Linked DNA regions of Homo sapiens. The protein of the gene in region 2 purifies or fractionates together with the protein of the main gene of each other region. This does not show direct contact. Each region holds a gene or a part of one and is shown on either strand. Other genes may lie near its edges.

The links.
Region 1: the proteins of FBLN7 (region 2) and EDEM2 purify together in Homo sapiens (affinity purification with mass spectrometry; 4 studies listed by BioGRID and IntAct, with this or other methods). This does not show direct contact.
Region 3: the proteins of FBLN7 (region 2) and ASPH purify together in Homo sapiens (affinity purification with mass spectrometry; 3 studies listed by BioGRID and IntAct, with this or other methods). This does not show direct contact.
Region 4: the proteins of FBLN7 (region 2) and TXNDC11 purify together in Homo sapiens (affinity purification with mass spectrometry; 4 studies listed by BioGRID and IntAct, with this or other methods). This does not show direct contact.

The regions. Positions count from the first base shown.
Region 1 is NC_000020.11:35,122,786-35,131,067, forward strand, and holds part of EDEM2 (ER degradation-enhancing alpha-mannosidase-like protein 2 isoform 1 precursor), read right to left. Parts: intron 3,591-8,282; coding exon 3,466-3,590; intron 1,250-3,465; coding exon 1,105-1,249; intron 1-1,104. Other genes in the region: MMP24-AS1-EDEM2 (ER degradation-enhancing alpha-mannosidase-like protein 2), read right to left, coding at 1,105-1,249, 3,466-3,590. UniProt on the Homo sapiens protein: Involved in the endoplasmic reticulum-associated degradation (ERAD) pathway that targets misfolded glycoproteins for degradation in an N-glycan-dependent manner.
Region 2 is NC_000002.12:112,182,780-112,189,395, reverse strand, and holds the end of FBLN7 (fibulin-7 isoform 1 precursor), read right to left. Parts: intron 6,606-6,616; coding exon 6,468-6,605; intron 4,196-6,467; coding exon 4,057-4,195; intron 2,408-4,056; coding exon of another isoform or gene 2,389-2,407; exon of another isoform or gene 2,263-2,388; coding exon 1,890-2,262; 3' UTR 1,835-1,889; coding exon of another isoform or gene 1,760-1,834; 3' UTR 1,178-1,759; downstream 1-1,177. UniProt on the Homo sapiens protein: An adhesion molecule that interacts with extracellular matrix molecules in developing teeth and may play important roles in differentiation and maintenance of odontoblasts as well as in dentin formation.
Region 3 is NC_000008.11:61,640,682-61,648,963, forward strand, and holds part of ASPH (aspartyl/asparaginyl beta-hydroxylase), read right to left. Parts: intron 6,198-8,282; coding exon 6,069-6,197; intron 3,952-6,068; coding exon 3,919-3,951; intron 3,321-3,918; coding exon 3,264-3,320; intron 2,753-3,263; coding exon 2,705-2,752; intron 2,240-2,704; coding exon 2,207-2,239; intron 1-2,206.
Region 4 is NC_000016.10:11,690,165-11,698,446, forward strand, and holds part of TXNDC11 (thioredoxin domain-containing protein 11), read right to left. Parts: intron 8,162-8,282; coding exon 7,961-8,161; intron 1,919-7,960; coding exon 1,126-1,918; intron 1-1,125. UniProt on the Homo sapiens protein: May act as a redox regulator involved in DUOX proteins folding. The interaction with DUOX1 and DUOX2 suggest that it belongs to a multiprotein complex constituting the thyroid H(2)O(2) generating system.

The DNA.
Region 1 (8,282 bases), on a different chromosome or scaffold from region 2:
TCCCCTCTACACCTCCTACGATAATCACTTGAGTTAGAAGAGGAAGGAAATGGGGTAGAGGAAGGCAGGATAACCAGAAGGCCTGTCCCATGGCTAAAAGGCAATTCAGGTGGGAAAGTGGGAAGTGTCTAAGACAATGGGCTCATAGCCTGTTTTGGGGTGGGGGATGACTATGTGTGCTGACTAAGCTTCCTTCCTTTGTCCCTCTTTTTCTTTCCCTCCTCACAATTTTCAGCTTCCCTGAAGTGAATCAAATGACATTAGGGCTAGAAAGGAACCTATGAGAGTGTCTCAAATATAGTCCTTTGCTTGATTCTGAGCTGCAAATGGGGAGGTGGAAGAGACTAGGTAATTCCTAAGGTCCGCCCCAAAGTTCTAACATTCCATACACGTAAGCATAATTTATCTGACCCATGGACTTAGGAAGCTTGCCTACACTTCTGAAATCCTGATGGCAGGAGCTCAAAAGGAGTCAACCTTGGCCTTTTCCTTCTCACTCATTTCCTGATTTGAAAGAGCATATGGGGCCAGTCGCAGTGGCTCACATCTGTAATCCCAGCACTTTGGGAGGCCAAGGTGGGCGGATCACCTGAGGCTGGGAGTTCAAGACCAGCCTGACCAACATGGAGAAACTCCATCTCTACTAAAAATACAAAATTAGCTGGGCATGGTGGCTCATGCCTGTAATCCCAGCTACTCGGGAGGCTGAGGCAGGAGAATCGCTTGAACCCAGGAGGCGGAGGTTGCGGTGAGCCGAGATCACACCATTGCACTTCAGTCTGGGCAACAATAGCGAAACTCCATCTCAAAAAAATAAAAATAAAAAAGAGCATGCAATTTAGTTAGGAGCCCTGGGTTCCAGGCCTAGCTCCTGCACTTAAGAGCCAGAGGCGAGCCATTTCATCCCACTAGGCCTCAGTTTCCATATCTGAAAACATGGGGATAATTAACTCCTAGTAAGAAAACCACCCAGAGCCACTGAAAGGAACAGATGGAAAGAAATGAACTTGTGGGCAGTTGTGGAGGATGGAGCCTTGTAGAGGGGATTTGGGGTTTCAGCAACCAGAGCCTGTGGGCAGATGACAAGCCAGAAATGCTGCTCACCTGGCCGAAGTGGGTAGCCCTCTCGCTTCTCCACTGTGTATCCCTGAGGAATGTTGTAGAATTCCGGGAGCCCCCCAAACTGCTTCCATACAGTGTAGTAGTTGAGGAAGGTCCTCATGGCATTGTCAATGTCTCCAATGAGGCTCTGTGGGAGAAAGTGGCTGTCAGGCAGGTAGACACCAGGCATAAAACCCCACAGACAACCTTAAGAAAAGACAAAGTAAAATCTGTGGGGCCAAAAAGGCCTTGAATCAATCCCTGAGTCTGCCAGTTACTCAGTGTGGTGCTGAGCCAGGCACTGGACTTCTCTGAGCCCCATCTATAAAACGTAAAATACACCACCTATCTCATGCATTGTTGGAAGGAACAAAGATTGTATATTAAGTCCCTAAATCTTCAGAGTCAATGTCAGCTAACAGTTTTGGAATTCGGCCAGCCAGTTAAAAATTCTAAGAATAGAGAAAAGTTTGTGCTAAGGCTCACTCCCACACCACACCCCCAAAAGATAACCATTTTTGTTTTTGTTTTTGAGACAGGGTCTCGCTCTGTCACCTAGGCTGGAGTGCAGTGGCACAATCACGGTTCATTACAGCCTTGACCTCCTGGGCTCAAGAGATCCTCTCACCTCAGCCTCCCAGTGCTAATTTTTTTATTTTCTGTAGAGATGGGGGTCTCACTTTGTTGCCCAGGCTGGTCTTAATCTCCTGGGCTCAAGTGATCCTCCTACCTCAGCCTTCCAAAGTGCTGGGATTACAACCATCACCCATCTTGCCTGGCCTCAGATAAACATTACTGGTTTCTTGTATAACCTTTCAGAGTTTCTTTATGCATGAGTATATGTTATTTTCCCCACACTAAAAAATAGCCTTTGGTTCTTTATTAATAGGGATATTAATTATCTCCATATTTTTAGATATGGAAATTTGGCTTTCAGATATTTTTATTTGAATTGGTTCCAACAACTAATGTGGCAATAAATAATTCTGTATATATGTCACATCAAATAGATGTAAAATGTTATGTGTAAGATACATTTTCAGAATTAGGATCACTGGGTCAAAGGATATATGCATTTATAATTTTACCACTATTGCTAAGTAGCCATTACTATTAATGTAATCTCACAGGGAAGCAGCTGACCCTGACATCTTCATTGGATGTCTCATGGACAGAACAAACTTGGCACTTCCTAAACAAAATTCTTGGTTCCCTTACTTTCCCACGAAATTGCCTCCCTACTTTGGCCTTTTTCCCTTCTTGGTAAATGACACAATGTCTACCTGGTTATTCTGGATAGAAACCCGGTGGCCACTTTTTTTTTTTTTTTTTGAGACAGGGTCTCACTCTGTCACCCAGGCTGCAATGGCATGATCATGGCTCACTGCAGCCTTGATCTTCTGGGTTCAAGCAATCCTTCCACTGCAGTCTCCTGAGTAGCTGGGACTACAGGCATGTGCCACCACCCTAGGCTAATTTTTTATTTTTATTTTTATTTATTTATTTTTATTTTTTTGAGACGGAGTCTTGCTCTGTCATCCAGGCTGGAGTGCAGTGGCGCAATCTCAGCTCACTGCAAGCTCCGCCTCCCAGGTTCATGCCATTCTCCTGCCTCAGCCTCCCGAGTAGCTGGGACTACAGGCGCCCACCACCACGCCCAGCTAATTTTTTGTATTTTTAGTAGAGATGGGGTTTCACCGTGTTAGCCAGGATGGTCTCAATCTCCTAACCTTGTGATCCGCCTGCCTCGGCCTGCCAAAGCGCTGGGATTATAGGCCTGAGCCACCGCGCCCGACCTAATTTTTTATTTTTTGTAGAGATGAGGTCTCACTATGTTGCCCAGGTGGGACTACTTTTTCTTAAAACTTTTAAAAACGTAGATTATAAAAACATTTTGGTACATGCACTATTTTGGAACACCAAAGTGGGGTAGATTAGATAAGCTCTAAGATCCTTCCAGCTGCAACTCTACCAGACCATGTAATGGAAAAACAACGAGATGGCACAGCGGCACAAGCTGCTTCCTGCCCTTCCTGAGGCCCACTGTCAAGAATGAGATTGGACAGAAACGCCCAGTGGAGAAACACCTGTTGCCAATGGCCATTCCTGCCCAGACTGGAAATGCACTGTCGACTTTAAGTACTGTAACACTCCATGGCAAACTGGAAGCTCAGTTCCTGACACTCAATTTGGCAGAACTCTAAATCTATCTAATTCACTCTAGGTCTCTCTTCCATCCTCAACCTGTCCCTCCAAAAAAAGTACTCAAGCAATTAACAAAGTACATTATTTGACTTATACATCAGAATGAGCTTGCTTTGCCAGACTCATAGAAAGATGATCACATTCTTTGATCATTCCTACCTGAAGACCAGGCCAGTAGGCCTCCAAGGACTGGAAGACTGGCATGGACACAGTCCCCTTGTACATCTGAACCCACAGGTACCAGTCATCGAAGCGGGTGTAGTTCCGGATGGCTTTGTTATACTCTGCAGTGGGGGAGATGGGATAATGGACATATGAGTGATTAGGGAGAAAAAAGGCAGGCCTGGACAGCGGAAGCGAGAACTTACACTTTGGAAAGAGCACCAGGATGCAATGAGGCAAGGAGGCTAGACAAGAGCATGGATTCTGGAGTCAAACTTCCAGCTCAAATTCCAGCTCCAGCTCTACCACTTGCTAACCGTGACCTGGGGTGGGTTTTTCCCTTTTAAGCCTCAGCCTTATGATCTATAAAATGGGGAGGCCAGGCGTGGTGGCTCACATCTATAATCCCAGCACTTTGGGAGGCCGAGGTGGGCGGATCACCTGAGATTGGGAGTTCGAGACCAGCCTGACCAACACGGAGAAACCCTGTCTCTACTAAAAATACAAAATTAGCCAGGTGTGGTGGTGCATGCCTGTAATCTCAGCTACTTGGGAGGCTGAGGAAGGAGAATTGCTTGAACCCAGGAGGCGGAGGTTGCTGTGAGCTGAGATCGCACCATTGCACTCCAGCCTGGGCAACAAGAGTGAAACTCCATCTCAAAAAGAAAAAAGCAGAAAATAATTGATGTGGTTTGGCTGTGTCCCCACCTAAATCTCACCTTGAATTGTAGCTCCCATATTTCTCACGTGTTGTGGAAGGGACCTGGTGGGAGATAATTGAATCATGGGGGCCGTTTCCCCCATACTGTTCTCATGGTAGTGAATAAGTCTCACAAGATCTGATGGTTTTATAAGAGGTTTCCCCTTTCACTTGGCTCTCATTCTCTCTTGCCTGCACCATGTAAGATGTGCCTTTCGCCTTCCGCCACGATTGTGAGGCCTCCCCAGCCATGTGGAACTGTGAGTCCATTAAACCTCTTTTTCTTTATAAATTACCCAGTCTTGAGTACGTCTTTATCAGCAGTGAAAATGGTCTAATACAGTAATGTTAGGTATCTGTGGAATTTTTCAGTCATTTATTTATACCACAAACATTCGCTAAGCACCTACTAGGTTCCAGGCTCCTATGAGTTTGTAAACAAGACAAAATCCAGCCTTCAGAGAACTTACATTCTAGTAGGAACTTGAATTTATCCCTCATATCTCTCCCCTAGATTGTAAATCCATGAGGCCTGGGACTTTGTTTTGTCTACTGCAGAATCCCCCACACTAGTACAATGAGCAATAAACATTTTCTGAATGAACAAAGTACCAAATATACATGCAAATAAATAAGATAATCTCAAACAGGAGTTGTAAGGATTATATGAAACAGTCCATGTTCAGAGCTTGGCACAATGCTTGGTACATCCGTGGTATTCAATAAATATTTGTTGAATAAATGAGTAAAGTAGTCCCCCCTTATGTGAGGAGAATACGTTCCAAGACCCTCAGTGGATGTCTGAAACCATGGATAGTACTAAATAAACTCTATATACAGTCATGTGCCATATAACAACATGTTGGTCAACACTGAACTGTAGAGATGGTGGTCCTATAAAATTATAATAGAGGTGAAAAATCACCACAGCCTAAAGATATCACAGCTGTTGTAATTTTATAATGCAATGCATTACTTACTTGTTTGTGGTGATACTGGTGTAAACACACCTACTGTGCTGCCAGTCATAAAAGTATAACACATACAATTATGTATAGTACGTGATATTTAATAAACAACCATTTACGCGTTTATGTATTTACTATATTATTATCATTAGATAACTCCTTCCTCTTATATAAAAAAAGTCGGCTGGGCGTGGTGGCTCACACCTGTAATCCCAGCACTTTGGGAGGGCGAGGTGGGCGGATCACGAGGTCAGTGTTAGACCATCCTGCCTAACACGGTGAAACCCCATCTCTACTAAAAATACAAAAAAATTAGCTGGGTGTGGTGGCGGGCGCCTGTAATCCCAGCTACTCGGGAGGCTGAGGCAGGAGAATGGCGTGAATCCGGGAGGTGGAGTTTGTAGTGAGCGGAGATCACACCACTGCACTCCAGCCTGGGCAACAGAGCAAGACTCTGTCTCCAAAAAAAATAAAAACAAAAACAAAAATTAGCTGGGCGTAGTGGTGGGTGCCTATAATCCCAGCTGCTCAGGAGGCTAAGACAGGAAAATCACAGGAGAATTGAACCTGGGAGGCGGAGGTTGCAGTGAGCCGAGATGGTGCCACTGCACTCCAGCCTGGGCAACATAAGCAAAACTCTGTCTAAAAAAAAAAAAAAAATGAAACAGCTTCAGGCAGGTCCTTCAAGGAATTCCAGAAGGCATTGTTATCAATCATCTGAGATAACAACAGTTCTGTGAGTGTTACTGCCCCCAAAGACCTTCTAGCAGGATAACATGGGGAAGTGGAAGACAGTGATATTGATGATACTGACCCTAGGCCTAGGCTAATGTGTGTTTGTAGCTTAGTTTTTAACAAAAAAGTCTAAAAGGTGAAAACAAAATAAAAAACTAAAAACAGAAAAAAACTTAGAGAATAAGGATATAAATAAAATATTTCTGTATAGCTGTACAATGTGTTTTAAGCTAAGCATTATTACAAATGAGTCAAAAAGTTTTTTAAAATTTTAAAGTTCATAAAGTAAAAAAGTTACAGTAAGCTAACGTTAATTTATTATTGGAGGCCAGGCATGGTGGCTCACGCCTCTAATCCCAGCACTTTGGGAGGCCAAGGTGGGTGGAGATCACCTGAGATCAGGAGTTTGAGACCAGCCTGGCCAACATGGTGAAAACCCATCCATCTCTACTAAAAATACAAAAATTAGGCCAGGCACGGTGGCTCACGCCTGTAATCCTAGCACTTTGGGAGGCCGAGGCGGGTGGATTGCCTGAGCTCAGGAGTTCAAGACCAGCCCGGGCAACACAGTGAAACCCCATCTCTACTAAAATACAAAAAATTAGCTGGGCATGGCAGCGTGCACCTGTAATCCCAGCTACTCGGGAGGCTGAGGAAGGAGAATTGCTAGAACCCGGGAGGCAGAGGTTGCAGCGAGCCGATATTGCACCACTGTACTCCAGCCTGGGCAACAGAGTGAGACTCTGTCTTTAAAGAAAAAAAAAATCAGCCAGGCATGGTGGTGGGCGCCTGTAATCCCAGCTACTCAGGAGGCTGAGGCAGGAGAATCACTTGAACTGGGGAAGCAGAGGTTGCAGTAAACCAAGATCATGCCACTGCACTCCAGCCTGGGCAACAGAGCAAGACTCTATCTCAAAAAAAAAAAAAAAATTTATTACTGGAGAAAGAAAAAAAAATTTAAATAAATTTAGTATAGCCTAAGTGTACAGTATTTATAAAGTTTACAATAGTGTAATGTCCTAGACCTTGACATTCACTCACCACTCACTGACTCACCCAGAGCAACTTCCTGTCCTGTGAACTTCATTCATGTGCCCTTTTATACTGTATTTGTACTGTACTTTTTCTATGTTTATATACATACTTACCATTCTATTACAATTGTCTATAGTATTCAGTAGAGTAACATGCTGTACAGGTTTGTAGCCTAGGAGCAATAGGCTACACCATATAGCCTAGGTGTGTAGTTGGCTATACCATCTAGGTTTGCTTAAGTACACCCTATGATGTTTGCACAATGATGAAATCACCTAACGATGCAATTCTCAGACTATATCCCTGTCATTAAGCAATGCGTGACTACTGTTTTCCTATACATACACATCTATGAGAATTCTTAATTCATTAAATTTTTAAAAATTTTTATTTTTGAGACAGGGTCTTACTCTGTCACCCAGGCTGAAATGCAGTGGTATGATCACGGTTCACTGCACCCTTGACCTCCCAGGGTCAAGCAATCCTTCACCTTGGCCTCCCAAGTAGTGGGGACTACAGGCACGCACCATCATGCCCAGCAAATTTTTTTTTATTTTTTGTAGAGACGAGGTCTCACCATGTTGCCCAGGCTGATCTTGAACTTCTGGGGTCAAGCAATTCTCTCGCCTCAGCTTCCCAAAGCACTGGGATTAAAGGCATGAGCCACTGTGCCTAGCCGAAAAAGTTTAATTTATAAATTAGGCATGGGAAGAGATTAACAACAATAACTAATAATAAAGCAGAACAAGTATAACAATATATGTTATAGAAGTTATGTGAATTTGTCTTTTTGGTAAGAGACAGGAAAAAAAGAAATTATGTAAATTTAGTGCCTCAAAATATCTTTGTTTTTTTAGAGAGGGGGTCTTACTATATTGCCCAGGCTGGTCTCAAACTCCTGGCCTCAAACAATCCTCACTTCCAAAAAACTGGGACTACAGGCGTGAGCCACTGCACCCAGCCTCAAAATATCGTATCTGACTGTACTCACCTATTTTCAGACTGCAGTTGACCATGGATAACTGAAACCATGGAAATCAAAACTGTGGATAACGGGGGACTACTGTAGCTATAATAATAATAGTAATTAGGTGCTCAACAATTCCTCAAGATTGCTAGTGTCTAAGGGCCTGGCGGGTAAGATGTATTTATTCAACAGGTATTAATCTATTACCTACCACATGTAAAGCACTGTGGGGAACATAAGATGAGTAAGGCATGGATTCTGCATTCAATTTGTAGAGCTGTAACTGTTGATGAGAGCTAACTGCAAGAAAGATGCTGAAGGTCCCAAATTCTGTAGAAGGATCAAGCTACTTCCTGGGCAAGGCGACATTTAAGTTAGGCTTTGAAGGGTGAAAAGAATTTGGACATAG
Region 2 (6,616 bases):
CATTGTCCACAGCCATCATCCACATCCTAAGCAGTCAGCCATTTGTACTTTGGTGCTGTGGGCACCGGGGCTGGGTGCGTGATTTCATCAGTGGGAAGCAGGTTTGATGACGGCAGATCTTGGTGATGGAAATTGTTGCTTTAAACTGGGCTGTTTGGCATCAAAGCCCTATCATATACCAGTTTAGAGGGCACCTGCTCTGGAGACTCCCCAAACACTCCCCACCTTCTGGCATGTGAGAGGCTTGTCCCCCTGAACACATCATATCTCAATATATCCCACATATATCCCACATCATATGTCATCATATCTCACATATGATGTGTGTGATGTGTGGGCTGTCCCTAGCCCACAGCTGTGACATCTCCCATTCAGGAACCTGGCCAGGCCCTTAGACTCTTCCGCCTGGTGTTGTGCACATGGGACTGGGTGGTGTGCAGGCTTCTGGCCCAGCATAGCTACATTTAGAAACATAAGGCTGTGGATAATGTTTTAATGAAGTCTTGTAACTTTAGTTTGCATGTCCTTTTTCTGTTGTTAGAGATCGCAGCTGAGCCCATGGGAGAAGAAACATTTCAAAAGCAACTCTTGACTGTGTCTCAACCTTTGTCCAAACAACAGTACAAGAATAAACCATCTTAGAAACCATCTTGATGTAGGGCTTGATCATTGAACTAGTGACACACTTCTGGCTCCATCTCATACCAGGGCAAATACAAAGATTTAAATAAAATATGTGTGAGGAAATCTCACCAGCAGCTTGACATGTAATTAGATAATGAAACTTTCTTACAGCTTCGCTACCTCTTAAGTTTTAGCTTGAATGATCTTCCCCACCCTACCCCATACCCCATCCTACCACACCCCACTCAGCTCTGGCCAGTGTTTTCTCTCTTTGATCACCTGGAGGGCGTCACCCTGTAGTGAATTCATCAGAAACAAAAGGCCATGGAATCTATGACAACTCAAGCATTTTCCTAAACTCTCCACGGCCAGGTATTGTCCTTACCAATCTCCCATGTGGTCAAAACAAATTTATAATGTGGAACAGTCCCAAACATCACCTCTGTGTTCTCTGACTCATTTATTCCAGTGTATCCAACCCAGACAGGAAGAGAGTCAGCCACCCCCTCCTAGAAGGAAGTGGGCTGTCTCATGCTCAGGTAGAAGTCAGGCGGGCAGGAAGGAGCAATCACTTTTATTTTTTCAGTTATATTACCAGGTTATGTATTTGAGATATGATTTCTCAAAAGGGAAGTAACTCAGGCAGAATCCATGCTTTTAACAATGGGTCCTTGGTCTAGAAGGATCTGCGTGGGGTTTAAGGCCCTCCTGTGACTCTCTGATGAGAAGGCAGGCAGGCAGGCATGTCACAGAGGAAAAGGCAGATAAGAACAACGTGCTGGGTCATGGGAGGAGACTCCACTTCCTATGCCACATGCGCAGAGGCATGACTAGGGCCCCCCGCACGACTAGAACCGTTTCATTCATAGCAAGCCTGGCTACAAAAAGGCAGAAGGGCTGATAGTCACCTGACACACATTGCCACCTTTTCTCTCCCCAGCTAGTTCAAACTCACAAGGCCATTTGCACAGCATTTTGGAAAGCCACCCATCCCCTGGATGAAAAAGTTTTAAGAAAGTTAGTGCATAATCTAAGGGAAGGGCCTCAAAGCAGAAAAAAAAAAAGAGTGATGGCAGCAGTTGAGTTTTGTGGCTGCTCTTCCGTGCTATTCCATGGGGCGCCGTGCAACGCTGCCCTAGAAGCCTGGGTGCACTGGTGAGAGGGCGGGAACAGGCGGGAGGCTCCACGCAGTCGGTGCCCGAAGCTGAGCCTTCGGGGAAGAGAAATGAGGTCAGCTCTCCACACCCCAGTGCCCCTGTGTACCCTCAGAAGTCATAGGGGGATACAAAGATGGTGACCTTGGACACGTGGTTGGCCTGGAAGGAGCGGTCCAGGTATTCCGACATGTCGACGTCCACCTCCAGCGTCTGAGGCCCCTCCAGGTTCTGCACAAGGATCAGATCCCCAGTCTGCCGGTCTGAACGCTGCATCACAAAGTGGCCGCGGCTGTTCCCACCCACGATCCCAAACCGCAGGCTGTTGGGCCCAGCTCGGCCGGGGGCAGAGGCTGTGGCCATGCGGAAGAGCGTGATGGGCGTCTTCAGGTTGGAAGGCAGAGAGAGGTAATGGAAGGAGATGGTCTTGGGCAGATGGCGGCAGGGCCTGCTGTCCATGGGGCAGGGGTTCCGCTCACACTGGCTGGAGCGGAGAGGCAAAATGGAGGCAGTCAGCCTTGGGGAGTCTCATGAAGAGCTGCTCTGACCCGGCTGCCCACCTGCCCTCTTGCAGAGGCCACCTAGATGACCTTTCCCAGCCACGGGTCCTTCACCCAGGAGCTATGGAGCTGTGGACGAGTGAATGTAGCTGGTGTCAGGCATGGCAAAGGAAGGGCTGCTGCTTCTGTTCCTGCTCAAGGGTGCTCCCTGCCCACCTGTGTACGTGTGTATGTGTGTGCACATACATTTATTTATGCTATTACTATCATTTTTACAGAAAAATATAGCCTGGGAATATTAAATAACAATGGCAATGCTGATATTCAAACCAGGTGCCCTTTCTCCATGTGCTGCGACCTCGCCCAGTAATGGCAGGACCTCAGCAGTTAGCCAGCAACATCCTGTAATGCAGTGCTTCCCACACGGTGTACGGTGAACTTCCTAAACACAGCAGCATGTATTTTATTTATTTATTTTTAGACAGAGTCTCACTCTGTCGCCCAGGCTGGAGTGCAATGGCATGATCTAGGCTCTCTGCAACCTCCACCTCCCAGGCTCAAGTGATTCTCCTGTCTCAGCCTCCTGGGTAGCTGGGATTACAGGTGCCCACCACCACGCCCAGCTAATTTTTGTATTTTTAGTAGAGACGGGGTTTCACCATGCTGGCCAGGCTGGTCTCGAACTCCTGATCTCAAGGGATCCGCCCTCCTCGGCCTCCCAGAGTGCTCGAATTATAAGCATAAGCCACTGTGCCTGGCCATCACGTGTATTCTCAACGCAGGAAGCCCTGTTTTCCTTAATCATTTGGAAAGAGGGTCTTGTGGAAATGCTTTCGATATTTCTCTATGTTGTTAAAAGACAAATGCAATCTAGTATATTTGGCGATTCTGTAGCATCATGATTATGCAGTCAACTGTCACATCCAGCTGTTGGTCGAATGCCCCAGAGGCCGTCATAGACCCGTTCCCTATCCCTTCACCGAGTGACTTCATGAGGAAGGTTCTGATGTCTTCACTCTCTCTAAAAACTGCCATGCTTCAGTGCCACTAAGTTTCTTGCTGCTTCTAATCTGCTTTAACTCAACAGCAATTCAAATAATTAAGTTACCCTCCATGGCTGTTACTTCATTTTAAAGACAACGCTAGGGCTCTTGTGATCTCTTTTTGAGAGGAAAATGTATGTGCTTTGTGATAGTTGTAGTCATTCCCCTTAAAGGCCCATCTCCCAACTTTAAAAAAAAAAAAAAAAGCTCTACTTGCTGTTTAAGAGTTGCAGTTACTAGATGTAGAACCTTCTAGTACTATTGGAAAAGCAGAGTGATATAATGCAGGGTGCACGGGATATGCAGTGTAACTCAAGGGAGTCTATAGTTCCTGGCTATGTGAATGCTGTCACCTCCCAAATCCATGTGATCTATACCTGTCTCCTGGGCTGCTATGGGTTTATCAGGGTAATGTCACCAACAGCTTCTTCCCTTCAGTGCCTGCCCTGGCTTTGCCATCCTGGGGTGGCAGCAACCCCATCAACCTCTATGTAGTGGGGGTGCACTTAGTATATTACTCCCATGGGGAATGGGGTTCTTATTTCTCCAGAGCAGCAACGCATTAAATGCAACCACTAAGCGGAAATGGAAATTCAGAGACACCAGCCTCCCAGCCTCCTGCCTCTCATCTTTCTATGGTATAACTGTACCTTCTCCCAAGAACCTCTAGGAAGCATCCAGCCCAGCCACACTTGGAGGCCTGGGTGAGGGTGTGCCTCCCCTGGAGATACTCACAATGGAGACGTCTTCACGTAGCTCACATTGCCGCTGCCCTCGGGGCACTCAGGGCTGACACACTGGAAGCTTCCACCGGTGTTGATGCATGTGGTCCCCTGGGGGCACACCGGCTGCAGGCCCACACATTCATCCACATCTGAGATACAGGACATACAACAGGTGAGAATCGCCCTGACCTTCCCTCCATTGCAGACAGAACCACATGAGAGGCCCTGCAGGTCCTGTAATGTGGTGCTCCCTGCTCCTGGCACTTATTCTTAAAGCAGAAAGCCTGCCTTCCTTAACTGTGTGGAATCAGGGCCCTGAGGAAATGCCAGGGAGTGCCCCTCCCTGGGATCCTGTCCTCTTTCCCTGGGGTATGACAGGTGGCAAGGATGGTGGAAAGCACCAGGTGAGTGTTACTGGTCACAATGCTTCTCTTAGACCTGTCTGCTTCTCAGCCCAAGTGCCCCATTACCCTCCATGGCTGTTATTCTTCATATATATATATGTGTGTGTGTATATATATGTATATGGTATATATATATATGTATATATGGTATATATATACACACACCATATATACGTATATATGGTATATATGGTGTGTGTATATATATATACCATATACATATATATACATATACCATATTCATATATATACCATATATACACCATATACAGCATATATATACCATATACCTATATATACTATATATACACACACTTTTTTTAAATTAGAATCTTCTAGAAAGTCTTCCCTGCCAGCCTCACCCCATGCGAGTGCAGACACCTCAATATCATGATTTGTATGAGTTCTCTGCTCCCTTTGCAGACATCCAGAGAGTCTCCCCAGCTGGAGGCCGTCCCTCCCAACCCCAAGCAACCCCAGGTGGGCCTTCGTGAGCACTGTGGGAGGGAGGGAGTGTGGGTGGCTATCTGGATGCCTTCTCCTGCTCCAGCCCCAGGTCACCCACTCCTCAGAGCCCTGCAGCGGGGCCCCAATGGGATGTCACCGGGGAGCCACCTCTCCCCTCACATTCCCACGTCAGCCCATGGAGGAGCCCTCTGCCCTCTCTTCTCCCGTTCTCCCTTGGTGGGTCAGAGCTGTTATCTGGAGCCAGCGGGGCTCCCCTCTGTGTCCTGTTTCCATGGGGGAAGTCCAGCTGGGGAGGTGGGCCTGTCCACCCTCCTAGTGTGAGGTATGCCTGCAGGAGCAGAACCAGCCCCCCGAAAGGCCCACTGCAGCATGGTGGTTTAAGGGCCAAGGGTCAGGATGATCCCACTTGGGCTTCAGGCCTGAGATGTGTGCTCTGACTCAGCTCATGTGGAGATTCAGCATGTCTACATCAACTGACATCTGTATTTTCCCTAAGTGGAGGTGGGGAAACACAGGAGGCTTCCTGTTAGGCACCCAGTGTCCCTGGGACTTGTCCTGTAGTGATGATGGTGACTGTTGCGAGGGTTCTCAGCCTCTCTGTTCTACAACCAACCCACTCTGCACACATCCTTCCTAATCTCTTAGGTGCCTCCCATCCCTGCTGCAGACATTCCTTGTCAACTTAAGATGTTCTTTCCCACTCTGCCAGGAATCAGCCTCAGAAACCTCAACCCGGCCCTCCAGGAAACCACTGCTGATGGACAGGATTCAGCACTGGGGTGAAACCTGAGCCAGTTATTTTCCATCTGCGCCGCTGCCCCCCAACCCACTCTCTGCACCTGAGAGGCTGACTGGTTTTTAGCTGGGGTTGGCAAATGACAGTGACCCAGCCTGAGGAGTCCTGACCTGCCTGGATGTGGTTCTGATGGAGGCTGTGTCCTTGATCAGAGCCACAATCTTTCAGGCTCTGATAAGCCCCCTCACTTCCTGTACCTCACAAGCCAGGGGTAGTGATGCCCCCGACTCTTGTCCCTCCCTGGGTGCTCCGCCTCCCTTGTTGTCCTCAGCTACCATCAGACAAGGCTGGTGCTGTAGCGCCCGACCTCACTAAGACATAAGTGCCTGTAAGGTGCTGCCCCTTTCAGAGGTGGACTTACAGGTGGACACAGGGTCATGGAGTCTCATGGGTTCCTCCAGATTACATGACATGGGTGACCACCTGGCCACTCTGCCTTTAGGCCCAGCCCTAGCTGAAGGAATTGTTGAGTGGGTAGAATTGACCAGACCTTGAAGAAAACAAAAAACCCATTTACTCAAATAAAGTCGGAAAAGACTAGTTGCCAAGATGTTTAAGGAACTCATTTTCCTATTTATGTAGATGATAATGTGGCCTGACCTTTGAGAAGCCCTTTGGTTGGTGGCTTTTTAAAAATCCAATGTATCTGAAACTGTGACTCTCCTAACCACCTCACTCCCGACTGTGAGGTCCTGGGGGTTCAGCACAGCAGCAGGTGGCTGGGTGCAGACGACACTCTGTAGCCTCACTCACCCTCACAGCTCTTCCCGTCAGCCAGAGTTCGGTATCCACCGGGGCAGGTGCAACGGTAAGAGCCCGGGGTGTTCACGCAGGCGTGCATGCAGAGCCGGGGGCGCCCCTCCTGCCCGTAGAGCTCACACTCGTTCACGTCTGCAGACAGA
Region 3 (8,282 bases), on a different chromosome or scaffold from region 2:
CATGAGAACAGGAACCATGGGTGTTCTTCACTAGAACTGCTCCAGTGTCCTGTGTTTCAGACCGAAGACACTAAACAGTGTATGAATAAATAAGTCAATTACATGGTAAGGCCATACTGTCACTTCCCAGGTTTGTCCAATGTAGGCATGATGATTTCTAGGTTATCTTTGATGTAGAAGCTGGTTCCTACTATAGTTCTATCGAAGTGTATGTTCTGGGGTTTGCAAGTTTCATACAGAATATATTCTATTCTCCCATTGAAATGTGGTTTTGTTTTCACCCTACTTACAGCTTCACTTACATGTCAGTTACTTGGTTTCTCTGCTCTGATTCCTGAATTTTCACAAAGGTATTGTTTTAGCATATAGTGAATAATACACTGTTCAATTAGATCTATTTGTTTGAAACAGTTTATGTTCTATATAACAAAGAAATCCAAAGTAGCTTACCAAATCATGTCAATCTCTTAGGTTATATTTACTGCCTTTTGCTAACATTTTAAATTACATTTATTATGATACTCTGCCCTATGAAAACATATAACATTCTTTTCGCATGGTATCTAATTTTATACTTCTTATGAGTTTGAATTTAAATTCCTCTAGATTTAGTCTTCAAATTGCATTCCAAACATGTTCTTTATATTTTTAAAAACATTATAATGATCAGTAGAAATGAGGAAAATATCTCAAATCCCATCATTACATGCAACTTGTATTTATAAATTCCTATTTTCTCCTTCAAATTCAAGATTGGAAAGAAAATCTAAGTGCAATCTCAAGACCAAATTATTCCCCAACCTTCCCTCGGCCCCAAATCTTCCTGTGAACACATCAGGTCCAAATTCTTTAACTTTTCATAAAAATTATCAGTACCTTAAAGACACAACCTAGGATTTTTCCCATGGTGTCATTCATATCCCATTAGAAATAGCCACTATAGATGATGAACTTGGTAGGGTCTCAAATCTTAAATCATCATATAAATATGATTCATATTTATAAACACTCCTAATTTTCTTCAATTGTGATTCACTATCTATCATGACACTGTAAACTCCTTGAAAGGAGGGACCCTATGTTACTCATAATTGAATTCCAGGCCCTAAAACCATCTAGAACATAGAAAGTCCTCCATATCCACCAACTCAATTACGATGTATTTCTTCATCGTTCTTGCTTTACACATAAAGTTATACCCAACTGACTTCTCTCTTTCTACATAATCATCTTTGAGGATAATGGAATAAAAAGGATATATTATTGGTTCTATTACTTCTTAGCCATACATTCTTGGGCAGCTTATTTATAATGTCAGAACCTTATTTCTGTCCTCTGGGAAGCAGGGAAAATAAAATCTACTTCATGGAGTTCAACACAATAGTCTATGCAATGCTTGGACACAAGAGGAGGGAGGTACAGGCCTAAACTGAATCAGATGCTGCTGATGCCACAAATTTGCCAGAACTGTTTTCTCCATACTGCCTTTAAGCCTGGAACACAGTGCTTCTTAACCTTCCCCAAGGTGACAAATCAGTCATCTTTGAGAGTGGGATTAACCTGTAGAAGCAGCTAGAGCAATTTAACTCCGGCTAAAGTAGTTGTTCATGCATATTTTAGTCAAAAGAGACACAACTATAAAGTACTGAGATTGGTTTTCTTGAATGACTGTAACTGCCTCCTAAGGCAACTTGTAAAGAGTTTAAGAAATTATTTAGGCAATGGCAGAAGCCGTGGAATGGGTAAACAGTCTCCCCAAGTGAATTCTTTGAACGCTACCGTTCATCTGGATGTTTTAAGTTGCAAAGTTTATAGTTTAAAGCATAATGTTCCACATCTTGTAGTCAAACTATAGGTATATTTTAAAACAAGAAGGTGGCTTAAGGTTAGAAAGCATTTGCAGGCCGGGCGCAGTGGCTCATGCCTGTAGTCCTAGCACTTTGGGAGGCCAAGGCGGGAGGATCACCTGAGATCGGGAGTTTGAGATAAACCCTAAAATACTAAAAATACAAAATTAGCTAAGCGTGGTGGCACATGCCTGTAATCCCAGCTACTCAGGAGGCTGAGGCAAGAGAATCGCTTGTACCCAGGAGGCGGAGGTTGTAGTGGGCCAAGATTGTGCCACTGCACTGCAGCCTGGGCAACAAGAGCGAAACTCCATCTCAAAAAAAAAAAGAAAAAAAAAAAAAAGAAAGCATTTGCAAACCTTGTTCCTCATAGACTTGGTATGTTACATCATCTGAAAAAAAAAAGAGAATAAAAGCAAAATAAGTATTAACTGAGTCATTCTATACAATTGTTCAGTTAAAACAAAATACTACTTAATCGTAAACACAGAACTCTACTCCTTCAAATATTAATGTCTGCTCAGTCAATAATAAATGCCTCTGCCCAAAAGCAATTAAAAGGCAGGTAAATTATTTTCATTAAAATTTCTCAAATTGGCACAGAGGAATTTGATACACAAAAACAGCATTAAAATTTGACATCCTGTTTTGTTATGGAATGGTTAGTTGATGAGGTGAAATATGAAAGCCTGATATTCTTATAACAGTCTAACTTTGTTATAAAACAAAATCTCATGCATTAGATGTCGAAATTACTTCTTTGATGCCTTTAAAAGAAAAATCACCATGTAAACACAGCATGTGATTGAAAAATCTAAGGTAATATTTTAAATCTAATGAAAATGCTCATCTAATACCTGTATCATGGTGCAATCTTTCATCTTCTACTACTGGTTCACTGGAATCTAAAAAACAAAAACACACCTTTGCCAAACAGGAAAAAACCAAACACATTGCCAGACAGCATTCTAGGAGATTCATAAATTAATTATCTTCACAACTTTGCCAGATAGATGTTTTCATTATCATTTAATAAAATTTAAGCTGAATAACGTTCCACAATTTGATGCCTAAGTCAAAAAGATAGGAAAGAGTAGAAATGGGATTTGTACCCAGAATGACTTTATAGTACATCATACTGCCCCTTCAATTTTCAAATATTCTTTCCAGCACCTTACCTACAAAGACCAAAGTCTCAACAGTGGTTTGAAAAATACGTCTCCTTTTTCTCTCATCCCTCTATGTAGTATTAAACTATATTCAGACATTTCTATAAACATCTGACCAATCAAAAGTGATTATAAATACCATACAGGGATCTCTGTGTTGAATCACAATTGTTAACCCTGGAATAAAACGGCCTTGGCCACTGCCTCAATCAGAAAACACATATCAATAATTTTAACATTTACAAACCTGGATTTTCCTGCTCAGACATCATCTCTTCCATATCCTGATTACAGTCTTGTGAAACTATAAATTATGGAATAATTAGGAAATTACGTCTCAAATAAGGAATACATGTAATATTCGAAACCAGAAAGACACAATTTCTAGTTATGATTGAAATGCAAAATCAAGTCATAATGATATTCAAACATGTTCACTCCTGAAACAAATAGGTATTAAGTGTGTTAAATGCCAAATGCAAAGATGAGTAAGGGGGGCCTGTCATCAACTGGTTTACACTCAAACCGCAAAACAGTAAAGTGCTGACAGATGATGCGCCCACCTCCTGTGGCCATGCCCTTTAAGGGCGCTGGCATGTGACAAAACATGATTTAGACCTTTCGTTGACTCTGTAATTGAAAGGTACAAAACATGCAATTCAATTGTATCTTTTGAACTAGTAATCCTACTGAAAATTTATCCTCAGGAACTAGGCATCAAAACACAAAAAAGTATATTCACAAAGAAATACCATAAATATAAGACGTAATAAAATTATTAATTGCATATCTTGCATATATTAATTTAAATATATCATTAATAATAGATATTATGTATTTTATGATGCCCTTTTAAAGGAAGACTCACTCTAATTAAGAACAGAATTAAATTAAAATCTCACCTGTCTCTTCCACGTGGTAACTATGCTCGGTTTCTGGAAAAAAAAAAATTAGATTGATATTTACTGCTTTTACAAAATGGTATGTATATATCCCGTATATGTACTCTGAATCTATGCTTATCATTAATTTTATTTAAAAAATTAAAAAATGGGACTATCAATTAAAAGTCTGCTTAACACTTTTATATTTCACTAGAAGTACACTGTGGGATGTCTCACACATTCTCCTTCTCAGTCCACTCATCCCCACAAGGCTGACAACCACCACCCCCTGGACTAAAGAGAGAGGACAACTTAGAGTGACACAGGCCAGACCAGGAAAGCCGTTCATTTCTAATCCACTTCACAACCCACTAGAATGTGCTATCTCCTCGACCTGTCCTACCATTTTCTAGAGCGAAAGTACAGCAACTATGGATGGGAACAGAGAAAAACAGCTGAAGAGGCTTTATACCCTTAGGGAGCTGAAGGGTAAATGTGTTGAACACTTAACCCATACACCCCAGATAGCAGAAGAGCTATCTGTCCGTCACCACACTTATGACCTTGCTAATTTTATTTAATGCATATATAAAGAATAAATATTTTTATTTTCTGAAGACTTTTAACAACCAACTTTTAAGTTCAAACTGCATCTATGTCCTAATTAAAGATGAGATCAGAAAGTAAGGTTTCTGCAATTTGTGAACTTCTTAAAAGTGTTTCTTCCTACTCCCAATCTGTGACTCCTAACTTTAAGAATATCAAATTCCTCATGCTTCTGTTTATTTCAGCATCTTAACTGAAATTTGTTGTATAAGCAGCATGTAGATAGAAAAATTCTGAGCAACTGTCAATCTTACTGAGCCATTTAGGCCAAAGACTGGAGAGAAGAAGCAACAGGAAATGTGGAAATCATTTTATCAGTATCCCTACTCAGAAACTGGAAACCTTGTCCCAAAGAAATCATGACATAAATGATTACTAAAGGCATAAAGTTCTGAAGGTAGTCTATAAGTGCTTATTTTCAATGTGTAATGCAGCAAAAATAAATCATATAGATGTTCAAAAGGATTGTGTGCTTGTATTTTTCACAGAAAATTATGCATTATATACAATTCTTTTGAAAACCAAACCATCCCATATTTTTATGGGAAAGTGCATTTCCTGTTCTAAACAATAGGCATGGATATAAGTTTTTGGAAATACATGTACTCATAAAGTAGGAGCTACCTGCTGCTAAAGTAATTTTCCAAAATATTTAGTATTGTGCAAAGTAGATAAACTACTTTTCATTTTTATGCTTTTAAAAAGTGTTTGCTAACTGGACACACAATGGCTCATGCCTGCAATCCCAACACTTTGGAAAGCTGAGGCAGGAGAATTGCTTGAGGCCAGGAGTTTGAGACCAGCTTGGGCAACATAAGGAGACCTTGCCACTATAAAAAATTTAAAAATTGGCAGGGCATGGTAGCATATGCCTGTGGTTCCAGCTACTTGAGAGGCTGAGGTGAGAGGACTGCTTGAGCATGGGAGGTCAAGGCTGGAGTGAGCTGTGTTCAAGCCGCTGCACTTACCAGCCATGTTGGGTAGGATTTTACAAATAAGTTGTATAAAAACACAGCTACACTGACCCACTTAGGAACTATCAAAGGCTGCTTTTACGCTGTGATGGCAGAGTTGAGTAGCTGAACAGAGTCTGTACGATCCAGAAAACCTGAAATATTTACTCTCTGGCTATTTACAAAAAAAAGTTTGCCAATGCCTGGTACAGAAGCTAAGAATTGTGTTTTGCTCACTGTAATTACAGAGTTCATGTGTGAACATGAGCCTGTGATAGATTATCAAGTCCAATATTTCATCAGTTGTTTGAATTTTATTTAACAAATAGCACCCTAAGCAGAAGAATATAGTAAAACTAGTTTCCTCAAGTATTTGACTCACTATTTATAAGAAATTTGTATATTCTGAGTTTCCCTGAAAAGTGCTTTGAACCAAAATCAAGGTATCTATTTTAAGAAAAAATTTGCTTTAATTGAAGCTTTAAGCTTCAACTTTTAAAAATCTAAGCAAAAGTTAAATATCAGTTTTAAAGGGGTTTAAGAAAAACTTCAGTAATTAGAAGTCATTGATTATATTTTATCCTAAAACTTGAAAAAAAAGTGTTCTACCTTCATGAGATACTTCAGGTTCCAGGGTCTCAAATCTATCATCTACATCAGTCGCCATAAGAAACTCATCATCCTCTTGTTGTGGTTCTCCTGTGGGTCCATCTTCTTGTTGCAAGTCTTCTCCCTCAACTATGACAATGAACAAAGTGACACTGGCAACATACAACTGAGACATGAAAGCCCCTTGTGAAGGGCTGCCACACACCTGCTCCTGCTGCTGGGGCTTCCCCTGCCCCTCCTTTCGGCCGCTGAAGACACCATTGTCCACTCCACAGCTATTTTCTTCCTCTGGCCAAGTGCTAATCTGCCTAAGTATATGTGGTGGGGGACAGGTTTCCTCTCATTAGGATGTTACACATCAGGACAGGAAGCTTATATATTTTATCCATTATATATTCCCAGTCACCTAGGGCCATGTCTAGCTAAAGGAAGCACTCAATAAATATTTGATGAATGAATAAATGAATTCATAATTATTACTAATATATTTGCCTCTTCAATTATCCTCAGGTCAAAGAAAAGGCTACTCTATGGCCTTTTCCTGGGAATTGACATAGAATTCCAGGTAACAACTTTAAATGACTATTCAAATATTCTATAGCAAAGAGTGACTAGCCACCTATCTAAATTATATGCTAGGGCCAGGCATGGCAGCTCACGCCTATAATCCCAGCACTTTGGGAGGCTGAGGCAGGCAGATCACTTGAGGTCAGGAGTTCAAGACCAGCCTGGCCAACATGGTAAAACCCCATCTCTACTAAAAATACAAAAATTAGTCATGCATGGTGGCACGTGCCTGTAGTCCCAGCTACTTGGGAGGCTGAGGCAGGAGAATCGCTTGAACCTGGGGGGCAGAAGTTGCAGTTAGCCAAGATGGTGCCACTGCACTCCAGCCTGGGTGACACAGTGAGACTCTGTCTCAAAATAAATAAATAAATAAATTAAATTAAATTAAAAATAAATAAAAATAAATTATATGCTAGGTCACAGGTTTACCTGAATCATACTATGCATTCAAATGTTCCTATTAGGCTTCAAGTTATGCAAAGATGCCCACTTTCTCTTCTGTGATTAACTTCTATGATATATTGAACTGCTCTGCTTCTTTTGTGTAGAGGTTGGACATGTTGCATGATTCCACTGCAACATGGTTAAGACTGGGTATTGCATCCCAATGTAACTTGACCTGGCTTCCAGCAGAGTATCTCCTGTGTATAATACTCTAAAGAAAGTGAATGGGCAGGACTTGGCTTTGCAGTGCAGCTCAGGGATTAGGACGAGTATGGGGTCCGGATGCATGGCTGTAGATTCAGGCTCTTCCATACCAGCTGGGTGACTGTGGGCAAATTACTTAACTACCCTGTGCCACAGATTTCCCTCCCATAAAATGGGAATAATATCTATTTGTAACATTGTTATGAAGATTAAAACACTTAGAAAAATGCCTGGCCCTAAGTATTTAGGTGTCATTATCACCATTATTACAGTAATAACAACATTGTCATTTGTACTGCTACTGAATCCCCCTACCCCACAACCCCAGCCCAGACTGCAAGAAGCCTTCCTTAGTTACTCTCCCTTTAGCGTGGCAAGGCAATGCTCTCAGGTGTTAGAGAATCAGGCAGGCCTATTTATGTTGATGCTATTTGTTTTCTATCTTCTCCTCATAGCTTGCAATACTGTTTTTCCTCATTTTAGATTTTCTGCTATTCAGCAAATCACCAATTTGAATTTCTGCTACAAATTTTACTTCTCTTTTTATTTTTATCATATTCCTCTTTCCTTATTCTTCTTTCATTCTATCCAGTGAAATCTGATGATTTTTACACTAGCAGGATTTAGCTTTCGTATGCGGTTGTTCAGTGGAAGTATTCCTGTTTTCTGTAGCGAAACCAGTCTAACATTGAACACTATCTTTGAGTCTCATCATGAAAAATTTCCTAAGGGGTCATGAGACTCTAGGCATGGCCAAGCCCTCTGCAGCTGTTATATCCTCCCTGTGAAGCAGGTACTGGTATCCTACTTTGAAAGATGAAGAACTTGAAAAACTGTGCTAAAGCCACATGGCTAATCAATGGCAGATACAGGACCTGAATCCAGTTGTGAATGCACCATGATGGGGGCAGGGAGGTTATGCTCAGTCTGAAAGATGTGATTGGGCGGGGTGGGAAACACATCTCAGCAAAAGATATACCAGGTGCAGGGGTGCTAAAG
Region 4 (8,282 bases), on a different chromosome or scaffold from region 2:
CACTGACCCTCCCTCCCGTTTCCAATGAGGCTGAACTAACGTGGCTTTTGAATTCTCACTTCATTGTGTGTAGTCAAGGGCATCAGCAAATTCCTGGGAACAGGCCAGGGTGGGTCAGCCCAATGTTGCTGCCAAGTCCCAGGGGCAAGCTCTGGGTGCTTTCTCATCATGGAGCCTTACTCCTCAAAAAGTGGGTTTTGCTGGTTTGCGACTGACACTTATTTATTTGCACTTTACACTTGTTACAGTGTAGGTACCCCAGGTCCCAGCAATATTACTCAGTACATTATGAAACAGCAGCAGAACAAATTAGGTCTGGTGGCCTTGATCCTTAGACATTTAAGCCTATGAGACAAAAAGGGAGGCAAGGCGGCTCTACTTCCTTCTTCACTGCTCTCTTTTTTTGGAGACGGAGTCTTGCTCTGTCGCCCAGGCTGGAGTGCAGGGGCGCGATCTCTGCTCACTGCAAGCTCTGCCTCCCAGGTTCACGACATTCTCCTGCCTCAGCCTCCCGAGTAGCTGGGACTACAGGCGCCCGCCAACGCGCCCGGCTAATTTTTTTTTTTTTTGTATTTTTAGTAGAGACGGGGTTTCACCACATTAGCCAGGATAGTCTCGATCTCCTGACCTCGTGATCCACCCGCCTCGGCCTCCCAAAGTGCTGGGATTACAGGCGTGAGCCACTGCGCCCGGCCACTGCTTTCTCTTTAAGCTCCTTTAGAACAAAGCTGCTGTCAAGGCTCACTTTCATCAGCCCCTAGGACATCCCACCAGAATAGCTCTCCACCTCCCTGCCTGTTCTAGTCCCCAAGTCCCCACTGCCTGCAGCTGGTTCTACCTTAGACATGTGACAGAAATCGCCAATTTAGAAAGTGGGACTCTTACCCCCACCATGGGCTAAATGACAAACTTATCCAAAATTCAGAGTGAGGAAGTTTCTGTTCCATTTAATAGACAAAATTAGCTTCTTTGAAAATTATGACTGATGGTGGTCTAAAGACTTAAAATGAGCTACGAAGGTGACATCACCCCACAACTAAATGTAATGAGAGCCATCAATAAAATTTACCCATATGAAGTCAAGCAAAATGTACAATGCTTGGGGAAATAAACTGCCTGCAGTACCTAGGGTGAGCTTCATCAGTGCTTGCTTTGGATCCAAGATGTAATGAGATTCTTCTTTCACGTCAACAATTGCCGCAAATTCTTTCACCTGAGTGGAGCTCGGAGCACCCAGTCTCTCTGCATATAACCAAAACAAATTTGAATCCAAAAGGTAGATGTTGAGAGTCTTGTTGGTTCTGCAGCTCAGGCCTGTGAAGTTTGTGCTAGTCATGTCCACTTCTGGAAAGAGATACCTGTTCTCCTCAATGTGAGGAACGGAGCTTGGGGCATCAACCTCACATTTCTTCTCAAGGGAAGAAAATGCAACAGTAGGGGCTTCAAAGACACCTTGTTCAGAGTCGATGAAGCCTGACACACCCCTGCTTATGGTCCTGCAACATGCAGTGTAGTAGCTGAAGGGGCTATAGGAAGTTAAAAAATTGCTGCATTCTATGCTGTCTGATGCCACATGATAAAAGGTCTGCTCCTTGAGGTAGAAAGAATCCAGAGCTGCTGCCATTTCAAAAAAGCTGCACTGTGGCACGCTGACCGAGCTCGGCTTCATGCCCCCGGAGGTCTGGTTGACACAGAGTTCACAGACGTTGTGGGTCCTGGAGAAGGAGTGCCACTGGGGCAGCACCACAGTGTTGCAGCAGGGGGACGCTGTGATCGTTGGCGGGTCTGGCAGCTGTGCCGGCACTTCCAGGGCCAGGGACTCCAGCACTGGAGCATCCACCCGCCGCAGGTGCTGAAGGAGACGCTCCACCACCTGGTCCCCATGACAGTTGTTGTACTCCAAGGCCACTTCGGTGATCTGAAATACAGGGCAGAGTTGGTGAAGGGCTTGGGGATGACTGAGGGACTAGCACCCCGTTAGCCACGTTTCACTTTCTGTAATTTCAGTTATCCATGGTCAACTCCGGTTCAAAAATACTAAATGGAAAATTCCAGAAATAAACAAGTCGTAAGTTTTAAACTACATGTCGCTCTGAGTAGTGTGATGAAATTTTTGCCATTACAAAAACTGCGAGCCATCCCTTTGTCCAGCGTGTCCATGCTGTGGATGCTGCCAGCCTGTTACTTAGTAGCCAACGCAGTTATCAGATCAACTGTCTCAGTATCACAGTGCTTGTCTTCAAGTAACCCTTTATTTATTAGAAGGGCCCCCAAAGTGTAAGGATAGTGATGCTGGCAATTCAGATATGCCAAAGAGAAGCCAAAAATGCTTCCTTTAAGTGAAACGGCAAAAGTCTCAATAAGGAAAAAAAAAGAGGTAAGGATGTTAAGATCTTCGGTAAGAACGAATCTTCTACCCATGAAATTGTGAAGAAAAGTGAAATTCGTGTGTAGTATATACAGGGTTCAGTACCATCTGTGGTTTCAGGCATTCATTGGGGGTCTTGGAACGTATCACCAAGAATACGCAGCAGGGTAGATGAGAGTGCAGGGGGAGATGGTTACTATATTTTTAAAAATACAACCCCAGGCATGGCACTCCTGGGCCAAATGGTACGCTGCCCATGAGATAAAACCTCCACACAATCTGGCCCGTTTGGCTTTCCAGTCTCACCCTACCCTCTTCAGAACAGACCAGGCCCTCCTGCAATGCCACACCTTTACGGAGTCCTGGCTGGGGACACCGGCTCCTCCATCTGTTCCCAAGGCCCAGCACCAGGGCAGCTGCTTCAGGGAAGCTAGTCCTACTCCCACTCCAGGAAGAGCTAGTTTTTGCACCTCCAGTGTCCCTGAGACCCCTTCTACAGTCTCACAAGCTTCTGCTGAGACATCCCTCTTCCCCACAAACTTACAGAACCTCACAGGCAGAAGCCACATTGGATTTATCCTGCCATCCCCGGGGCCTAGCACAGGGCCAGGCACATAACAAATGCTCAGTAAACCCCTGATGAATGAGTGGCAGCTCAGGGTAATGCACACAATCCTCTGTCTTGGTGAGATTTGCCACTTTACCGTCAAGCCAGTATTGGCAATTTGAATTTATATTTTATTCTAAGATTCTTCCATTTCCAAAAAGAATATTTCGTTACCCACCTCCCATTCTGGTTTCCTGAGAAAGACATGTAAGTTATAATCCAAAGGCATTTACTCTCTAAAACAGAAGAGTCTGTCAACTTGAATCAAATCTCACCACAGTTAGTTACAGGGTGCTGTCACTCAGGATTTTGTTTCGCTGTGTGTGTGTGTGTGTCTGTGTGTCTGCATGTGTAAAACAATTCAATGAGTGTAATTTCCAATTTAAAAACACAAGTTTTATAAAAATAAAAATAAAAAAGTTTTATAACGTAATATTTATAGTTAATTCAAAACATACATATTTGTACACAAAAATAAATTGTTTCAATAGTTCTCGGCATAAAAAAAGTCACTTTATAACCCACCAGAAAACTACTGGGTCAAGAAAAGAAGTCACTTTAGATGATAGGCCAGTGCTTGAAATTTTATTTCCCCTGCACAAAAACATCTCAGTGGTTTTTGGATGAGGCTCTGACAGCATGCAGTACTAACAAGGTCAAGCCTATATAATCCGTGAAGAGCCCAGATGCCCTCTGGCCCCATCCTGGTACTGTTTTAGATTCAAAGACGCAGTAATAGACAACTACTCCCACCCACTCCCGCAAAAACCTCCATAAGACTTCACGATTTACTGTAATCTTTTACAGAAGTCCAAGTAGGAGATCATTAATTATATTATAGAGAAGAAAATTCCTTGAAAAATCTTTCTTCATCTCTTTTAGCTTCAGTATCTCATAAACAAAGCAGCCACGTAAAGAATATTTTTAATTGAAGAAAGTATTCTGTCTACAGCAATGCTTTTTTTTTTTTTTTTTTTTTTTTTTTTTGAGACAGAGTTTCACTCTTGTTGCCCAGGCCGGAGTACAATGGCATGATCTCAGCTCACTGCAACCTCCCACTTCCAGGTTCAAGCAATTCTCCTGCCTTAGCCTCCCAGGTAGCTGGGATTACAGGCATGCATCACGACACCCAGCCAATTTTTTCTATTTTTATTTCGCCTGGTTAATTTTTTGCATTTTTAGGAGAGACGAGATTTCACCATGTTGGCCAGGCTGGTCTCGAACTCCTGACCTCAGGTGATCCACCTGCCTCGGCCTCCCAGGGCTGTAATCCCACTGGGATTGTAAGCATGAGCCACCGCGCCCGACCAGCAATGCTTTTTTTTGAGACGGAGTTTTGCTCCAGTTGCACAGGCTAGAGGGCAGTGGCACCATCTTGACTCACTGCAACCTCTGCCTCCCAGGTTCAAGCGTTTCTCCTGCCTCAGCCTCCCAAGTAGCTGAGACTACAGGCGCACACCACCATGCCTGGCTAATTTTTATATTTTTAGTAGAGACGAGGTTTCACTATGTTGGCCAGGCTGGTCTTGAATTCCTGATCTCAGGTGATGTGATCCACCCTCCTCAGCCTCCCAAAGTGCTGGGATTACAGGCGTGAGCCACTGCGCCCAGCCAGCAATGCTCTTAAAGAGTTAGGCATTATCATTTTTCTCCTATGAAGGGGAATTTATGTTTCTATTCCTTTTACCTAACAGGCAGTTTTGAAAACACAACTCATGTCACATTCTGTGTATCACTTGATGTCATTTATTTCATGTGAATAATTAAGGAAATCTTGGCAAATAACTGTTCGCACAGTAGATGTTTCCTTCTATTTTCTTTAATCAGGGAAATCTGTGAGCCTGAACATGCTAACCACGCCTTTGCTTACCAGATTCAGACGATGTGAATGCCTCAAATAAACACCTTTAAAATAGGAAACAAGTCACGAAGACTCTTTGCTGGCTGAGGTAAGCATTTCCTTTGATTAACAAGTTGTGTAATACACACTGTGATGTCTTATAACCTCTCTAGAACTCTCTAGAGACACCAGGGTGTCAGTGGCCTCACGCCAGTGTCAGGATCTGTACTTTTGCATGTGTGTGTGGGTACACATGCAGGTATGCATGTGTGTAGAAGCAGCTACCCACTATGGGCTTGGTGCGGCCACCATATGGTCACTCCTGACTGGCATCCTACATGCACCACAGCACAACTGTCCAGAATGTTGGTGCTTGGTATGCCCCCAACTCTATTCCACTCACTCTAAGATGACCTCTCTCTTCTCAACAATGCAAGCATCCTCAAAGTTCTGCCCAATATTAGGCCTAAGGTGGTAATGAAAAAGTAAAGCCACCTAACTCTTTCGTGGTCAACAAGCTAATGAATTTACAGCTCATCTTGCGTAAGTACAGCGTTCATCCTTCCCACCTTACCCAAAGGCTTCTTCATCTCTAGTCACTGTGTCACAGTTTCCCCGATCATAGACCCTACTTTCCACCCTCCACCTCTACCACCCAAGTTCAGGTTCTTACTACTTCGCAGTTTTCTGGAACCCTCCTGCCAGAAAAACGTTCGTAATGATAACGCACAGCCCTGGCTGCATCTCTTCACTGTCAGTAAGACTTGTATGGGCCAGGTGCAGTGGCTCATGCCTGTAATCCCAACACTTTAGGAGGCCAAGGAAGACCGATCGCTTGAGCCCAGGGCTTTTGAAACCTGCCTGGGTAACATGGCGAAACCCCATCTCTACAGAAAAATACAAAAATTAGCCAGGCGTAGAGGCGTGCACCTGTAGTCCCAGCTACTTGGGAGGCTGAGGTGGGAGGATCACCCGAGCTCAGGAGGCAGTGAGCCGAGATCATGCCACTGTACTCCAACCTGGGCAACAAAGGAAGACCCTAACTCAAAAAAAAAAAAAAGAGAAGACAAAGACTTGGATGACTATGGTTAATCTTGAAATCCTCAGAGAAGTCCACAAGGCCCTCTCCTCCAAAGGCTTTTTCAAGATCTCTCCCCAGTTAGCCCTTCCTGCAGACCACAAAACCCGGCCTCCTTCCTAACACCTAAACCTGCAGCAACTCCCGTCCCTCATGTCTCTGCTCAGGGTCCTCCTTCCCGTAAGTTTTTCTCAACCCATCAAGATCCTGGCTGCCCCTACAAGTCCGTCTCGAATACTTCACCCATCCAAAGCCTCTGCTAACTCCTCCCCTGCCCGGAACCCCGCTTTCTGAGATGGCACCCTCCCTCCTCTGGTTCCTCCTGACCCTGGGCCTGATCGTCCTCTACTTTGAATTATAGGCAGGCTTTCACTCCCTGTACTGGACAAGCCTCTAAGACCACAGGACAAGATGGTGTCGCATCTATCCTTTCTCCCCTGGAGCTTCCCAGCACAGTGCTCAGTAAACATTTGCCAAACTGACCTGAAACAAAAAGGGAAATGTGCTGGACAGGCACTTTGCTTGTCTGAGTAATTCATAATACGGTGAGATGCCACCTCGTGTTCGGTCATCTCACCCACATGCTGAAGTTAAGGGAACGCACTCACCTCACAGAGACAATGGGAGCCCCAAAGAAAGGAGTCACAGGCAAAACCATGATAAAAAGGAGGCCTGTTGGTAGGTGGAGGATTTGCAGACTGCTGGAGGGGACACTCATTCAGAAACAACAGGCGAGAAAGAGTCTTCCCACCAGGTGCCTAAATCCAACCACAACCCTCTGGGCAGAGGCTGTGGGCTCCTGCCACAAAATACAACCCAGCCAGGACCCTGACACACCCAAACCAGACAGGAGAGAACTCTCCAAATCCACAACCACAGCCACACCACCTTGACCGAAAACCTTCCTTTCCTACAATGAGCTTTAAGGCTCTTAATATTAGATACAGTAAAGGCCTAGTCATTTGAAATGGTGCCTCAGTTCACAAAATATCCATGTAGTGAAAATTTTCTAAAGAAATAGTTTTATTACTTTGAGTCCTCCCTAATTAGAGGGGAAGAAACAAAGCTATTTCATTTCTCTCCTCTTTCTTCCTCTAAACCAAAGAGCAGCATTCATTCAGAATACTCCCCAGAGGGAATCATAACTTGAGCAAAAAGACTCCAGCACAGCAAAGGGAGGGATCCACCTGGGCGAGAAGTCCTGCCTCCCTGTCCCTCCAGGCAGGAGGCCAGGCCAGCGCTGAGGGGCTCAGGTCTGCTTAGCTGGCCAGTGGTACACTGGCTGTCTGAAATTGGTTTTGGCCAATTAAGGGATCCTTGAGGGAGTGAAAAAATAAAAACCTCAGTAAATGCAATTTTGCCACCCCAGGCTCGCTCTGCATACTGTGCCTGCTGTCTCTCCAGGCTCGCTCTGCAAAATGTGCCTGCTGTCTCTGAGCGCCTCCAAATGCTCCGTGTGGAAAATAAACTCACGCCCAGAGCAGGCGCACCAGATGAAGCCGAAGACAGGCAGGAACAGCAGGCTCCGATGGCGCTGCCTCTGAAAACCACTCTGGCTTCTGCACGACAGGGAAGGTTCAGAGAAACAAGGTGTCCCAACATCGCTGCTGCTGCTCGCTCTCCTCTGCTGTCCTGAGGATGGCCAGGGCTGGCAGTCTGGCCAAACCCCCAAGACAATGGCATCTCCTAGGCCACACTAAACTCGGCCTGTGTTCCTGCCACTCCCTGTTTCACCCCCTAAACAGGAAGCTCAACAGCAGCCACATCAGAAGAGGGCATTTGGTCCTTCTCTAGAAGGGCACGGTGTGGCTTCCCTGCCTCTTCCCACTCACTCCAGACACCAACAGCTGTCAATAAATATGGCCAGAGAGGCTGCGGCAGTCCCTGTCCTAGACACGGGCTCTCTCCTGCCCATATGGAGGGGCAAAGAGCAATGCTCAGAGCCACAGCTGCCCCTCGTGGCAGCCATTAGCTGCCAGAGTAAATGACTGAGTGTGGGATGAGAGGAGCCAGGTAGATGAGGCTTTCCTACTCCTCATGAGGTGCTTTTCACATCACAGCTCTTACCTCGTCTATTAAAGGATGACTTTCGGCCAGGGGATTAAAAGGTATGAACAGAAACAGCGCTGGTCCTTTCTTCAGCTCGTTATTCAGCAGGAGACTCTTGCCTCCGTGTGGCCGCAGCCACCGAAAGAGCGTCTCCTGGTTTTCTAAGGCCCACTTACAGATGTTCTCAGCTGTGTAGTTCAGGACCTCCCTGGGGAAGACCTGTGAAGGACAAAGGCACAGAGGATAAAGGAGAGCTCGTGAGGTGGGGCAAGCTCAAGGCACATCAGTGCTGTTCCAACCCCACCACTAAGGGTGAGAAAACCCAGGCGTGGAGCGGGGC